2 linked regions of the Homo sapiens genome follow. The protein of the gene in region 1 interacts with the protein of each later gene in a biochemical or structural test. Each region holds a gene or a part of one and is shown on either strand. Other genes may lie near its edges.

Region 1 (7,491 bases):
GCAGGAAACCAAATGGAGACCACCACCCTCCAGTGTAAACTCTAACATCACACCAATTTTTCTTTTTTGACTCTCTGAATGCATGAATAGAAAAATAATAAAGCAACAGAATCCACTTCAAATTGAAAGACCTGGCACCTCTACCACACATTAGGAGGTATGGAAGCATGGGCAAGTTATTTAACAATAATTATGATCATTTCTGTTGTGGGTGCTGTTAAGCACTTTGCATACTTTAATCCTTAAGCTTAGATTTCTTCATGTATAAATTGAGGATAATAATGCAACTACTTCATTTGCAAGTTGAGGCAGCAGGGTCAAAAAGAACACAGTTTCAACACAGACAGACGTGGGTTAAATGCCAGCTCCAATTTCTACTATTTGATCTCACTGAGCTCCCATTTTCTCATCTCTAAAGTAGAGATGAAGCCACTTACCTCAAAGGACTGTGGTGGGGAATTGAGCAAGACAGTGTTAAATACCAGTTGGTGTCTGTATCGCTAGACAGTGCACAATAAATGTTTATACCTTCTCTCCTATTATACACATGAACTGCTTCTGTTAATATTCATCAGCAGCAATTCAATGTCCATAGCAGCAATTCAATGTCCATAGAGTCCAAAGATGCATTTCCTTTCATAACAATGAAAATTTTTCCCAGAACAAGCTTAATATGCCAGATACTGGCCCAACAGCTCTATGTCTATGAACTCATTTAATTCTCACTACTGTTCAGTGGGGTAGGTACTACTACTGTCATCCCCATTGTACAGATGAAGACACTGAGGCACAGACTTTGGGTTACTTGCCTAGATTCAAACAGATGGTACCAGAGCTGGCAGCCTGGCTCCATAGCCTGTCCTCCTAACCAGGCTGCAATAGGGCTTAATGGGTCAATCTGTTTGAGATTCCATGCTTGGATGTAATCTCTTCTAGAGATAAGCACTGGATGCTCTCACAAACCGCAATGTGTTGATGTGACTAACTTTTCAACTTCTGAAATAACATTTTGTGTATTTTCTTAGTATTCCTAAAAAAAAACCCTTTACACTTTAAATAAGGTGCCTATAACTAGTTCATCTTGTTCTGCATGCTGAAATACCATAAATAAATGCACTTCTCTCTTCAAAGATTATGTAAATAAATCTTACATTAAAACATACCCCTGAGCTTTGGTTTAAACAATAATTTCAAGTCCAAATTAAACATTTATGTATGTGTATATATATTTAGCAGGAAAGTCTTAATATGACCTATTTTGTTAAACTAATGACATCTATACCCAATACTCCAAATATTCCTCTTATTTATAATATTCGCTGTGTAACAGTCACACAGCAGTACTGCATGGTACTTCAAAGTACTATTCCTTTTACAAGTTTAACCAACTCAGGTATTAAACATCAATGATGATAATCCATAGCTCTGCTTAAAAGGAATCTCTCGGGAACAGCTGAGAAAGAAAGGTTAAAGATTTCTATCCTTCAAAGTAGGGCACTGCAGCTACCTATAAATCATGCTCTTTGTTTATTAAGATAATTAGGCCCATCAGTACACTTAACTTTTAGACTCAACAATTGTCTGGCATGAACAATTTCCACTTTTTCTAAAACAAAGGGGATGTGTTCAAAAAGCGGTCCTCTGCATGCTCTCTGCACAATGCATGCTATTTTAAAACATGATTTATGGGTCTAATTCCTGGAGCTGCCTTGAAAAATATAGTGGGTTGTTCCTCCCATGCTCCCTATTAGGAGAAGACACTCCAATTTGAAGAGTGCACTCTGTTTCAGACTTCAGGCCGCTATATCATGTCAGCATTTTCAGTAAATACTGTTCAATTGGACTTTAAACAAATGGAATGGAGGGCCACAGCTGCAGCCACTGCAGAGATAAAGTTATCCAGCCGGGAGGCTTACATAAGAGGTGCAGGACAATCAGGGTGAAATCCAAGTGTCATTATCTGAATCCTATTTCTTGAGACTTGCCTACATTCTTAAAGTGTATGAATTCACACGCCCAGAGCTCGTTTTATTTGCCTTAGGGCATAAAACACCGGGTCGACATATAAGTTGTTTTTTCCCTAAAGGACTAGGCTCCAATTATGAAAAGGTTGGCAACTTCTGCCTAGGGGAAGAGTAAAGCGGGATGCGCGGGAAGCCTGCAGGCCTGAAAGAAATGGCTCGCCCAAAGATCCATCGCAGTGCTGGCCACACTCCCCAGAGGAATTAGGATGGAGGTGACAAGACCCTGCCCAGCCCCTTCACCCCAACGTAAACACAGAGTCAAGGAGCTTGGAATGAATAATTAGCACGCAGCAGTCGAAATGCCCTAGGAGTACCTGTCCTCTCCCAGCATATTTCCAACTGGCACATTCGTGAGATGCTGAGGTCAGCCAGCCCTGGACTCCAGACCTTCCAGCTGCCTTGTCCCCTTCTTGGCACCCCGCACTCCCTCCTCGAGCTGGAACTCTGTTAACAAGAGGTGCCACCCTCGGCTTCCCACAAGAAGATAAAAACGAACCTCTCCTTCCCACGGCTCCCTCCAACTTCAGAAACTACAGTCAACTTACTGGGACTCAGGAGGCAGGGAGTCTTCCTGGCGGACGGCGCTCGGAGGCAGCCTCTGCAAACTCCGGCGCGCAGCGCCGCCGCCCCGGCACAGCCCGGCAGCAGCGGCAAGTGCAGGACCAGGCGCCGCCGCTCTGCACCAGTCGCCTTGGCTCAGCTGTGCCGGGCGCCGGGCATTCGCCAGGGCACACGACTCAGCGAGGCGGCGGCTGGGACTGAGGCTACTGCACCCGGCCGCGCGGACCCGAGCGCTGCAGCTGCCTCCAGCCCCGGAGCGCGGCGCTCCGAGCCCCTGGTGGGTGTCTCTGGCTCCAAGGGAATCACGGCTCAATTAGGGACCTGCCAGGAGAAAAACCGATGCGCTGCCGCAGGCAGAGCCGCCAGCCCGCCCCCAGTCGGCTGGTCACATCGCGGGCGCGCAGACGGACAAGCGAGCGGGAGGGTACCGCAGCCAGCACTCGCCGCCGCGCCGCGGAGAATGACAGGCGCCGAGGCGGAGCAGCCGCGCGGGGAGCGGGGCGCGAGTGCGCATGATCCTGGCCGCAGCGGCACGTCACGGGGGAGGAGGGGCGGGCCGCGGGGCGGGAGGGGGCGAGCCGGGCGGGGCCGGGCTGGGGGTGCACACGGGTGAGGACCGGCGCGGGGCCTGGCTTGCTCGCGGGAGGATGCAGGAAGTCTTCCCTGCCCTGATTTTATGAACCCAAAGCTCTGTGGTTGAACTTGTCCCAGGAGCCCATTGTCCTTTAAACAGCACCGTTTAAGCGGTCCTTAAGGTCCCTGGGGAGCCCACAAAAGCCAATTTAATTCAGGTTACAGCTTAACCGTAAAGGGTTGCCATTTGGGGGACAGTGATCTTCTATTGTGGCTGTGCATTAAAATAACTTGGGGAGCTTGTAAGAACCCTTTGCCCCGGACGCATCCCAGAACAAGTACAGGACAATGTCTGGGTGGGGCCCACCCAGGTATCAGTAGGTATCTAAAGATACCAAGGTACAGCAGTGCTTCTCAAACCCTCAGTGTGTGACAGAATCTCCTGCGGATTGTGATGAGATGCAAGATTCAGATTCAGTAGGCCTGGGATAATGAGGGAGACATCCTTTCTAACAAGCTCTCGGAGGATGCCAATACTGGAGGTCCAGACCCCCATCCTTGCTACTTAACGTGTGATCTAGAGCCTGGAGCAGAGCTTCTGAAACAGTTGGCCTGTCTGACAGTCACCCGAGGGGCTTATAAAAAACGCAGAACAAATGCCCAGGCCGTACCCCCAGTGATAGTGGTTCTGGCTCAGCCCCTGGCAAAGGTGGGCTTCTAGAATTCCATTTGGCATCAACACTCTAAATAAATCTGATAGGGGTTTTGTTTGGGCCAAACTTCAAGTTTACACTAGCAACCTGGAATTGGGAATAAACTTTTGCACTTACAAGGAGACAAACCAAGTCTAGAACTCAGGACATCTGACTTTGAGTCAGGGATTCTAAACCAACGGGTGCTTTATCTGACTAGTCCCAATTTTCTAAAATTATGATGCATTACTTAGCAAGAAAAAACATATAAATGGCATTAAATATACACACACACACTCTATTGAACACTCGTTACACATATCATTAATGGGAGCTTAAAGGTGGCTGGGGAAGAAGGCTCATCAGGAGAGGGTAAGGAAGACAGTGATGGAGTAAGGGATGTTGTTAGTGTGTCGCAGAGGGAAGGGTATGTGGGAGGAAACAGTTTAGACTCAGCCTACAGCTTGGAAAAGCCCATTGGGGAAGCGGACCCAGGAACCAGACTTGGCCTCTTGCTTCAGAGCATGGTATGAAACTCAGGTGTTTAAGAACTTATGGAGTATAACATTTCACATACGTTACCTCACTGAAATTTCACAGTGGTCTCTTAAGTTGAATAATAATATAAAAAAGTATCCCCATTTTATATATTAAAGAAGACATCCTGGACATGAGTTGACTAATGGTGGAACTTGAATAAAAGTAGGGATCTCCGTGTTGGACTTGGCTTCTACAACTCTGGAGAAGAGGACAATTTAGACCTTATAAAGCAAATGGTTTCTGTGTTTACTAGTCACATCTTTTACAGGCTGTGCCTAAATTTGGAGTTAGGAAGGCTTTCATTCTTGTGGGGAGGAAATACATTTTGTGTCTTCCAGTTTTGCTACACTTGTTAGGATACACTTAGAACAAAATGTTCTAAGAGCAACCCGGTCCTAGGACATTGCAGTTCCACAGTGCAGGCTTCATTGAGGAGTTTGAAGGGCAATATTCACGTTATCTGGTGACAAGTGTAATTACCATCCTCATTTTACCCAGGCTCAGAAGCTAAGTGATTTAGACAAATTCACGAATGCAGGCAGGAGCCAATCTCTAGCCTCTGTCCTTTTCCTCTGCTCTCTTTTCACCAAGTAACATGCTGAGGATTGTTTTTCATTTCCAAATTTTTCATATCAGGATTTGCCATCAGTAAATTGGAACTCAAATGTATTTCAAAGCCACTCCTAGATAGAGAACCAAAAGTGTCAGGATCAATTCTTGTGCTTGTGGTAGATGCTATGGGCTATACTCTCGGTCTGAGTAATGTTTTGGAAGCAAGTATGTGATAGTTATATACAGTCTTCTAATCCAGAGGTTTGACTGGGAATGCTACACTGCCAACTGTGGTCTACCTGCCTTTATCTTTACTTCTTATCTAACTCTTCCATTACAGCCATTCTTCGGTGTGATTATGAAATTAATTCCTAAGAAAAAAGAATTCTTTGAAGGAGCTGGTACATCACAGGTTGTAAAACTTACTTCAGTTTTTAATAAGAAATATATATATATTTTAAATATGAAGGTAGCAGAATAGTCATGTTGGGACCTTTAGAAGAACCCAAAGTTGTCATTGTTTTCTTAGGTGCCCGACATTTCAATCAAAATATTTACATAATTCATTTGTATATTGATTTCAAGAGATCCAAGATTTAATTAAATAAAAAGTTACTATTAATTGGTGTGTCCTACTGCTATTGAATTTTGAACCATTGTTATTGGCATTAAATACATGAAATATATAATATTGTCTTGATACTATATTGACTGTGCTTTAATATTGACTGTGTCTTGATATTGACTGTGTCTGTATTTAGAATTTATTTCACATCAGCTGCTATTGATTGTCTGGCAGAAATCGCAGCTACATCTTTTTCTCTGAGGTCTGTATTCCTTATGGGTCAGCAAGGCCTACTCTTTGGCTGAGAATTCCTTCCTTCAATGCCTCTAAAAGTCCTAGTAGTGAGATATTCAATTATATAGACACTAATGACTCCACTGAAACTATTCTTCCCTCATGCAGAAACTGTACCTAGGATAGATTTTTATTAAAGTCTTTCTGCTAAAAATCACAGGCTTACCAACTGAGCTGGAAAGCTTAGGCTCAAAAATTCTCCACCTTTATTAATTACATTTCTTCATCCATTTCACTCAAAGGGATTCTTTGACATGAAAATCTTCACTTACTTCATAGACACAGTCCAGATAAGAGAACTGTGGGGAGTCCAAGGTGACTAGCAAGAGTGAGACAGTTGGGAGGAAGGAATTAGATGCCACTTGGTGAAAAATAAGCTTGCCATAAAAATTAATACAAGTTGTGCTTGATTTGTGGACATGGCTTATTACAAAGTTTGCCTTGTTTGAACACATGCAGCAGCTGATAACTTCACTGGAAACCATCACTGAATCCCTGGTGTAGATGGGATTGGGGGAGATTAGGGTCCTGTCTTCTTTCCCGAGAAACTTTAGAAAAGTATTAGAAAGCCCAATTCTTGCCCTAATGCAGGAAACTTACGACGTGCCTGCATTGTAAATGTTCATGTCTAAGTTATCTCACTTACAATTTAGAGCAGTCAATATAATAAATAATCAGGATTTTCAGGCTAGCTCCATAATGTTTTTTAAGTCTCTATTAACAACAAAAAAAGCTAATAGAGTGTTAATTATAACCCTGAACCTGAGAAGAAATAGGTGATGGGTAGGGATGTTGGGCTAAGGCAGGAATGGGGTCGGGGGCTGGGACAGGATGGAATTTAGGGATGGAAGAAGGAAGGCAGGAAGTGGCCTTTGGTTGCTGAGGAGCAAAGGCTGGTGGAGACTGAGTATCAGCAGCTTCTGAGATAAGACTGGGCAATGGCCTGTGAGCAAGATTAGAGAGCAAGCAATCAAGACTCTGCTGGCAACTCACAGCTTACCTGAACTTAAAGTGCTGAGGATTCCACGTGTGACTTTGTCTATAGGAAAGAGGGATCAGAGGTTAAGAAATAGATTATAAATTCCTTAAAACCCATGATAGATGCTTTAAAGAACTACTACAAAATATACCCTCAATTTCAATCTCTAAGAGTTACTTTTTCCTCCCTCCCAACCAAATTGCCCACTAATAAAAGGAGAGAGCAGCTGGGGGAGAGGCCATGCTGCACAGTGCGAACCTCACAGGCTGTCTGGCCCCCACTCCCAGCATCTCCATCCATCAGCTGTAATCACGTGACTGCCATCTTTGATTACCTAATACACAGTAACAAGAGCTTCAAGCACATATTAGGTTCCGAATATGCTAGCTATTAGTGGTGGGCTTTACAAAATCTCTCCTAGAGTTAAAATCTGAAACTAGACATCTCTTAGTGTCTATTTTATCATTTTAATGTAAACCATGATGAACTGTAGTTTTTAAGAGAGTACTTTCCTTCTCCATCAGAAGACTTAAGAGTGACTTTAGGGCTCCTCTGAGGACAGGAGAATCGTGTAGAAAAGGCTTTCAAGGGAGATCAGGGCAAAACCTACTAATGTAGCTCTGCAGCCTCACACTATACTGTAGAGGAAAAGTCAAGGCTTAAGGACTTGACATTTTCATATCTTTCTACCGGGAGAAAGAAATTATGGTG
Region 2 (7,000 bases), on another chromosome or scaffold:
GATTGTGGGAAGATGTTTTAAGAACTAGTCTGATTGGATTTTAGGAAAGTTCATTCATTTTGATATGATGTTATCAGGGACATTTTCTATTTGCTTATAATTTTATCTGACCAATATTAGCTTGTATCAATTTGAGGTTTTTTTTTCCTTTATGAATCAATTGTGCAAGGTTTGCCCTACATCTCTTAAAAGGTGGTTAAACTGGAATCTTAAAGACAGTTGAATTTAGCCAAGACCAAAGATATGCAAAGAAAGAATATTTTGTTTATGTTACAGTACATTTAATAAATCCAAATGGCTCCCTTGATTCTTTTCTTTCTGGGACACCACGTATTGATTTCTGGCAGCTGGCCAAAGGCAGATGGTGGTGGAGCAAGCGAGGACAGTTAAGAATGTTGATGATTACTGGATTACTGAGGAGTACTGTGAGCTTTCTGGTCCTCTGCTCAGAGGTGTCTAGCTCTGAAACTGGGATCCTGGCTCTGAGCTGGAGAGGCGCTTCCAGTTACTGCTGTCCTGGAGCGCTGGAAGGGAGCATAAGTGTGAGGAGACAGTGGGCTTTTAGCCTGGGATGCAGATGAGAGATGTCTTGACCTGAGTGAAAACCTTGCAGGCAAGCTGCAGGTCTACCGAGCAGGGTGAGGGAGGCTCTCGACCTGGATACTGTGAACTAGGGAGAGAAAGTAAATTCAACAGAAGGAGGGCCCAGGGCAGAGATTTAGGAATATCCACAGTTTAAATATTGCTTTACTTAAGTATACTCTGCCTGACTATAAGTAGCATTTGAATGTTCAACATATGACCTTTCATTTCTCCCCTCCATTGGTTTGTCTTAACTGATAAATCTTTATTTTCCCATGGTCAACCTGGTAGTTTATTAATATTACATCTATCAGTTCCTGTTGAGTTGACATGAAAATGTTTTGGTGTGACCTAAGTTAATTTCTCTTTTTGTTTAATTTTAATTTGTAATGAGTTCCTCTTTTCATTCTGCCCATCCTTTGGTACTGCTTTGAGTTATGTCCTCTAGAATTCTCACTATTTCCTTATGATTGGCATATTTTCAAAGTTTTTTGGTGTACTAATTTTAAACAGTGTTTGTTGACACTGAGAATTCAGGACTTTGGAGTTTTAGACCACCATCACCTTCTACTCCTTCTCACACCATCCCAGGATAATTATTCTCTCATTTGAGATTAAGAAGTTATTTGGTTTATTTTATTATGGTTATATAAATATAGTTTACTGCTAAAGCAAGGTATATCATTCCATTTTCTATCTCGTACCCCTTTTTGCTCTTCCTGGGGTAAACCCTTGCTTTGTTTTTGTGTTTTCTTAGTTTGCACTGTGCCTATTATCATTTCCTTCCCAACTTTCTGACATAAAGATGAAAGCCCTATTGACACAATTTTCTACAGTGTCAGATATACCAAGTAATCTCACGGTTCCATTTTTCTTTCTTTTTTTCTAGAACCCTCCATCTTCTTCTTGTCTAACAGTTGCTCTTCAGTCTTGCTATACATACAGTAATACCTGAAGAATGTTTGGAGGATATTTGGTGTGGGACTTTTCTTTTTTTTTTTTCTTTTTCTTTTTTGTAGAGATGGGCTCTCACTATATTGCCCAGGCTAGTCTCAAACTCCTGGGCCCAAGCAATCCTCTTGCCTCAGCCTCCCAAAGTGCTGGGATTATAGGCATGATCCACTGTGCCCAGCCCTATGGGGAATATTTGTTGACTAAATATGTTTTATGTAAATTGCTTATCATACTCTTTGTTGTAACATCTGTGGCATTAATATGCCTCTTGTTAACACTCACCTACATTTTACCTGTTGTAAATCCACTGTCATAATTATTGAAAATATTTCTCCAGAGCTTTTTAATTCTATGGTTATTTATTTATTGTAGTATAGAACTTTTATGATTTCTTCCATCAGGGTGCATTCTGAATCATGCTTAGTGAGAGATGGTTTTTAACTCCACTTTAACAGTTAGCATCTATGTTTTACATCAGTGTCAATGTCACTTTTGTATTATATACGACACCAACATTTTATTATCTGAGTGATGAGAATGTTTATTTTTGTGGAAATGGAGATCTCATGAGACTTTAAGCAGATTGCTGGCCTTCTCCTCGATTTCCTTGATTGATTCCTGAAGTGGAACTGCAGTGCTAAGTGGAATTCCCTGGGAAGCTTGCTCAAGTAAGTAAGCATGAGAAATGCTGAATGAAATAAAGTGCAGCAAGCAGGGATAAATATCATGGGCATCTTCAGAGCCTTTGTGCAGGTAACATGCACAGAGATTCTCTGAGAGAGTCAGTCTCAGCCAGTGGTCCTACACTTCCATGACCCTGCAGTGCGTTTGTTCTTAGAGTGGCTTTCAGGGCTGGCTCTGCCACAGCCTCTTTGGGAAACCATGCATGACCTCTTGCTGCTCCTTACCAAGCTCCTTAGGCTTTGCTTGGTAGAGGCAGAATGTTGTGGTTGTTTTCATCTTAAATGCTAACAATATATGAATTATGTGGTGGATACACTGCCTCAAAGTGACATTTATCGAATATTTTTGTAGCTACGGGTTGAGAGTAAGGGTCTGAGGCCCCACTGGGTTCAAGTCCCCCTTCTTTATTTGTAAGCTCTTCTTTTGTAAATGGAGCAGTCACAGGGGGCTTCACTCTGATACCTAATGGAGACCGTGCCTGCAGTGCTCGGTACCTGGTATGTGGTTAAAACTGACATAACTGTCAGAGCCTCTCCCAGGCGGGCTGACTCTGGGAATCTGCCCTGCAGTCTTGGAGGGAAGGCACGTCCAGATAGGTTTGATGAGCAACTACAATTGCCAAAGTTAGTTTCTCTGACCTCCAAGATGGGAGAACTTTCTAATATTTTCTTTTAGGAAAGTTGTCCATTGCATAACTGATACACGAGTACATATCCTTTAGTACAGGATTCAGATACAGCGAGCAACAGAAAAGCCCTTCTTAACCTCCACCCTCAGTCCCAGCCCTGCCCCCAGTCCCACTGTTGGGGAGCAGTTGGAGCTCTAACCTCTCTTCTTTCGTCCTGTGCATTCATGTGTGCATGTGTGCACGTCTTCAGAAGATATAATGGTGGGCTGTGTATGTCTTCTTAATACCTTTATCACTCTGGAACTTTCTTTTTATTAATATGTTGGGGTGCGGGGAGGTCTCCATATTCAGTGATTATTGTAATTTTTATGACAGTCCAGAATAGGCATGTCGATTTTTTTTAATTTTTGATATTATAAACAGTGCTGCAATGAATGCACTTTTTCTTTTCATTCTTTCCCTCTCCTTTGCCATTTGCACTGTGTTTTCATGAAACCATCAGGTTAATCTTTATCTCAAGGAAGCCCTTCATCCCTGTCCATCCTGTTCTTCAGTCCATCCACTTAGTTTTCCTATGATTATTTTAGCAAGCAGGTGGTTAATTTCCAAGGAATGTAGTTACTTCTTTGGGATTTTTTTAAGTGATGTATTAGTTTTCTGTGTATTTTATTACTTGTTTGAGTGCACCATTACCCCCGTCTCCCGGGGTATCAGTTCATCTGCTTGCATGCTTGGTGCCTCTCTCTCCTGCTGTCAGCTTTCCTGATGTGCTGGGTATTTCCACGTGTGTGTTGGTTTTTTTTTTTTTTTAGGTACCCTAGGCATTAGTCTTTTAAGGCTGCATTCTTGCAGCCTGTCCCACATGAGATAGGAGGAGGGCAAGACCTGGATGTGCACAGGGCAGGATGGGCCCATAACTGGTCTGTGTGGTGTGTGGGTGGCAGGAACTCCCTGTTCTTTGTGGGTATGGCCATGCCTTCCCTATTCAAACGAAGCCACACACCTGTCTTTTCCTGCGAGGCGTCTTCTGCTGCTTTCTTGGAGCTGGGGAGCATCTACTCTTCCCTTGTCCTCCCGCTCCTCCCTGTTCCTCCCTCAGGTCTCTGTCGCTTCTAAGGCACTCCACCCTTGGTCTTCTCCCACCTTGCACCCCCCACACTGCTGCCTGCCTGCACAGGGGGACTGTGATTGCCCCCTTCAGTGTGAGCCTGACCTGCTTCATGCCTTTCAAGGAGAGCATTCATTGCCAAGCTACTCATGGAACATCTCCTCAGATCCTCAGCGTGCTATGACTTCATTTTCTGTAATACTGTTTTTCATGTTTCTTCCCCTTCTCTGCATTTATAGCTGTGCATATGCTTGAGGTGGAAGGCCACCACTTCCTTTTGGTTAACAACACCAATCAGCTGATGGTCATGGCTACGTGAAGGAACTCACAGTGAGGGCTCAGGAAGAGCCTGGCTAGAGCAGGCTGCATCGCAGGCCTTGGCGTTAGGTTCCCCAAATCACTGCTGGTGATCTTGTAGCTCTGTCATGAAGTCTGTCCTGCTTATTAGGATACCGAGGGTCCAAATTCATAGATTCTTAGAAGCCTGTTTAAATATGCAGAGTATCTAATTCAACCCGATTAGAAACGGGCTCAGAAAGGTGAAGGGATTTGTCCAACCACTGAGTGATGCTGCTGGGATTAGAACTCTCAAAACTAGGTGTTTCTAATCCAGAACCAGAATCCCTATCCACTACTCTAATAAGGCGTAAAAGAGGATCTGCTGTCCTGCCTAATTGGTGGGCAGGTTTGGAGTCCTGTCAGCAGCTCAGGAAAGCCTGGAGAGGCAGAGGGAGGACACAGGCTCAGTGTCAGACATGCCAATTTTACTCATCACCAATGGTTACACAAAACTTGTTTTGATCTTTGTGGCTTTTGCATTGAGAAGTTAAGCATATACAATAGGAATTAGACACAATCCCAAACCAATGAGAGACTCAAGTGAGAAGAGCTGAAGCTTTTATGCATGCCTTCCTTCCATAGAGATAAATTTACTATCCAGAGTGAACTAGAGCCTCGTGGAAAGTGAGTGCCGAGCCCCTAGCTGTGAGTGTCTCTGTCCTTCCCACATCAGACCTCCATGTCTGTGGCTGTCCCCCTACGGGGCAGAACTGCTGCTCTCTGCTTGTGTTGCTGTCGTGAGGGTTGGGAGTGGACAGGTGTGGACAGATCTCAGACCCGTTTCCCTCCTGTTATGGAAATGTTTGTGAGGCAGGTGGGACTTCAATGATTTGGTCAAGGAAAGGCAGCTTGGCAGCTGGGGAGAAGGGCTCAGGCTAGAAAGGCAAGCGTTTGTGAGGGATGATTTCCCCAAAGAAGCCAGCAGTGTGTAAGGTATTCCCCGGAGCTTGTTTCTTCTCAGAAGACTCTGGAAGCTGTGTCAGTGTCTGTTATGGAGGAATGGAGTATCAGTCCGATCAGGCTTTCATAACAAAGCACCACATACTGAACGGCTTGAACAGCCCAATGTGTCGCCTCCCAACTCTGAGCCAAAGAGACTGAGGTCAGGATGTCCCAGGGTGGCTCCTTCCAAGGGTTGGGTGGGACAATGTGCCCCCAGCATCTCCTTGGCTTGTGGGTGACCATCTCCAGCTCCACATGGCATGCTCCCTGTGTGCCTGTCTCTGGGTCCAGATCTCCTTTTCATGTAAGGACACCAGTCATGTTGGAGTAGGGCTCACCCTAAGGACTTCAATGGGGCGTAATCACTGCTGTAAAGACCCTGTCTTTAAATAAGGTCACACTCAGAGGGGTTAGGGAGTTAGGACATCAACATTTGAACTTGGGGGGACACAATTCAACCTGTAACAAATGTGTGAGTGAAGACTGGCACCTCCCCACGATGGCCTTTCTGTGATGCCATCAAGAGCACCAGGGAGCTCTCCAGATATGGAGATGGACAGATGTCTAAGGCCCCTGAAATGAGCCTGCTGTACAGATGATTCCAGAACTCTGTCAGTGTGAAGACCAAACACAATTAAGCACATTAAAATACTTACGGTAAAGTGTTTCTTTCACTTTAGATGTGCAAAAACTTAAAGAGAGAGAGACTTATGAGAAGACTCAGGGAAGAAATGTAAGATAAAGGTGTTAAGGGAGACAAACTCCACAAAATTGTAAAGTGAAGCTGCTGTGGGGAGTAGAGCCCAGACCCAGATAATATGCAGGCATGGGTCCAAGGGAGGCTTTGCACACCAGGCGGGGGAGGTGCAGGGCCATGGATGAATGGTCTTGGGAAAACGGCAAATCGTTTGGAAAAAAAAACAAAACTTTGCTCTTTATATCAAAATAAATTCCAAGCTGAACAAAGAATAAAAATATAGCATTGAAATAATGAAGCTATTAAAAGAAAACTTAGGTGAGTTTTAAAATAATTGTGAAGAGGCCTGTCTAAATGTGATAAAACATATGAATTTATATTCACACTCATCACAAGATTGATAAGCATGATTTCCTAAAATTTTAAGCAAATCCCCATAAAATGAAAAAATATACAAATAAGTGAAAAAAATGGTAAGATATATTTAATTTCAATACTTGTGGTAAAGCATCAATAGCTTTAATATGCAGCGAGTTTTTTCAAATCAATAAGAAAAAAGACACAGATGGGTGCTGACAGGGCCGTTTGGTAATATCTTTTAAAATTTAAAACACAAGTGCTTTCACTCAACAACTTCACTTTTAGGAACCTATCACACATATAAATTGACAAAAGTGGAGAAATATTCATTGCAACATTTTATTTTATAATAGCAAAAAAAAATCACTAAGGGAAGTACAGTTGATTCATATGTTGGAATCCTATGCAGTCTTCTAAAAAATGTGGAATTTATTTCATACACCAAATATAACAATGTCCAAGTTCTACTAGTGAAAAAGCAAGATGTAACATATCATTGTATTTGTTTAAAAAACTCATGCTGGGTTGGGTGCAATGACTCATGCCTGTAATTCCAGCACTTTGGGAAGCCAAGGTGGGTGGATTGCTTGAGCTCAGGAGTTTGAAGCCAGCCTGGGCAATATGGCAAAACCCCACCTCTATGACAAATACCAAAAAAAAAAACTAGCCTGGACTGGTGGTGTGCACCTGTAGTCCCAGCTACATG

The links. The genes of interacting proteins can lie anywhere in the genome.
Region 2: the proteins of PAG1 (region 1) and SYK form a complex in vitro, tested with the Homo sapiens proteins (one study listed by BioGRID).

The regions. Positions count from the first base shown.
Region 1 is NC_000008.11:81,109,022-81,116,512, forward strand, and holds the start of PAG1 (phosphoprotein associated with glycosphingolipid-enriched microdomains 1), read right to left. Parts: upstream 3,048-7,491; 5' UTR 2,570-3,047; exon of another isoform or gene 1-2,569. UniProt on the Homo sapiens protein: Negatively regulates TCR (T-cell antigen receptor)-mediated signaling in T-cells and FCER1 (high affinity immunoglobulin epsilon receptor)-mediated signaling in mast cells.
Region 2 is NC_000009.12:90,804,819-90,811,818, forward strand, and holds part of SYK (tyrosine-protein kinase SYK), read left to right. Parts: intron 1-7,000. UniProt on the Homo sapiens protein: Non-receptor tyrosine kinase which mediates signal transduction downstream of a variety of transmembrane receptors including classical immunoreceptors like the B-cell receptor (BCR).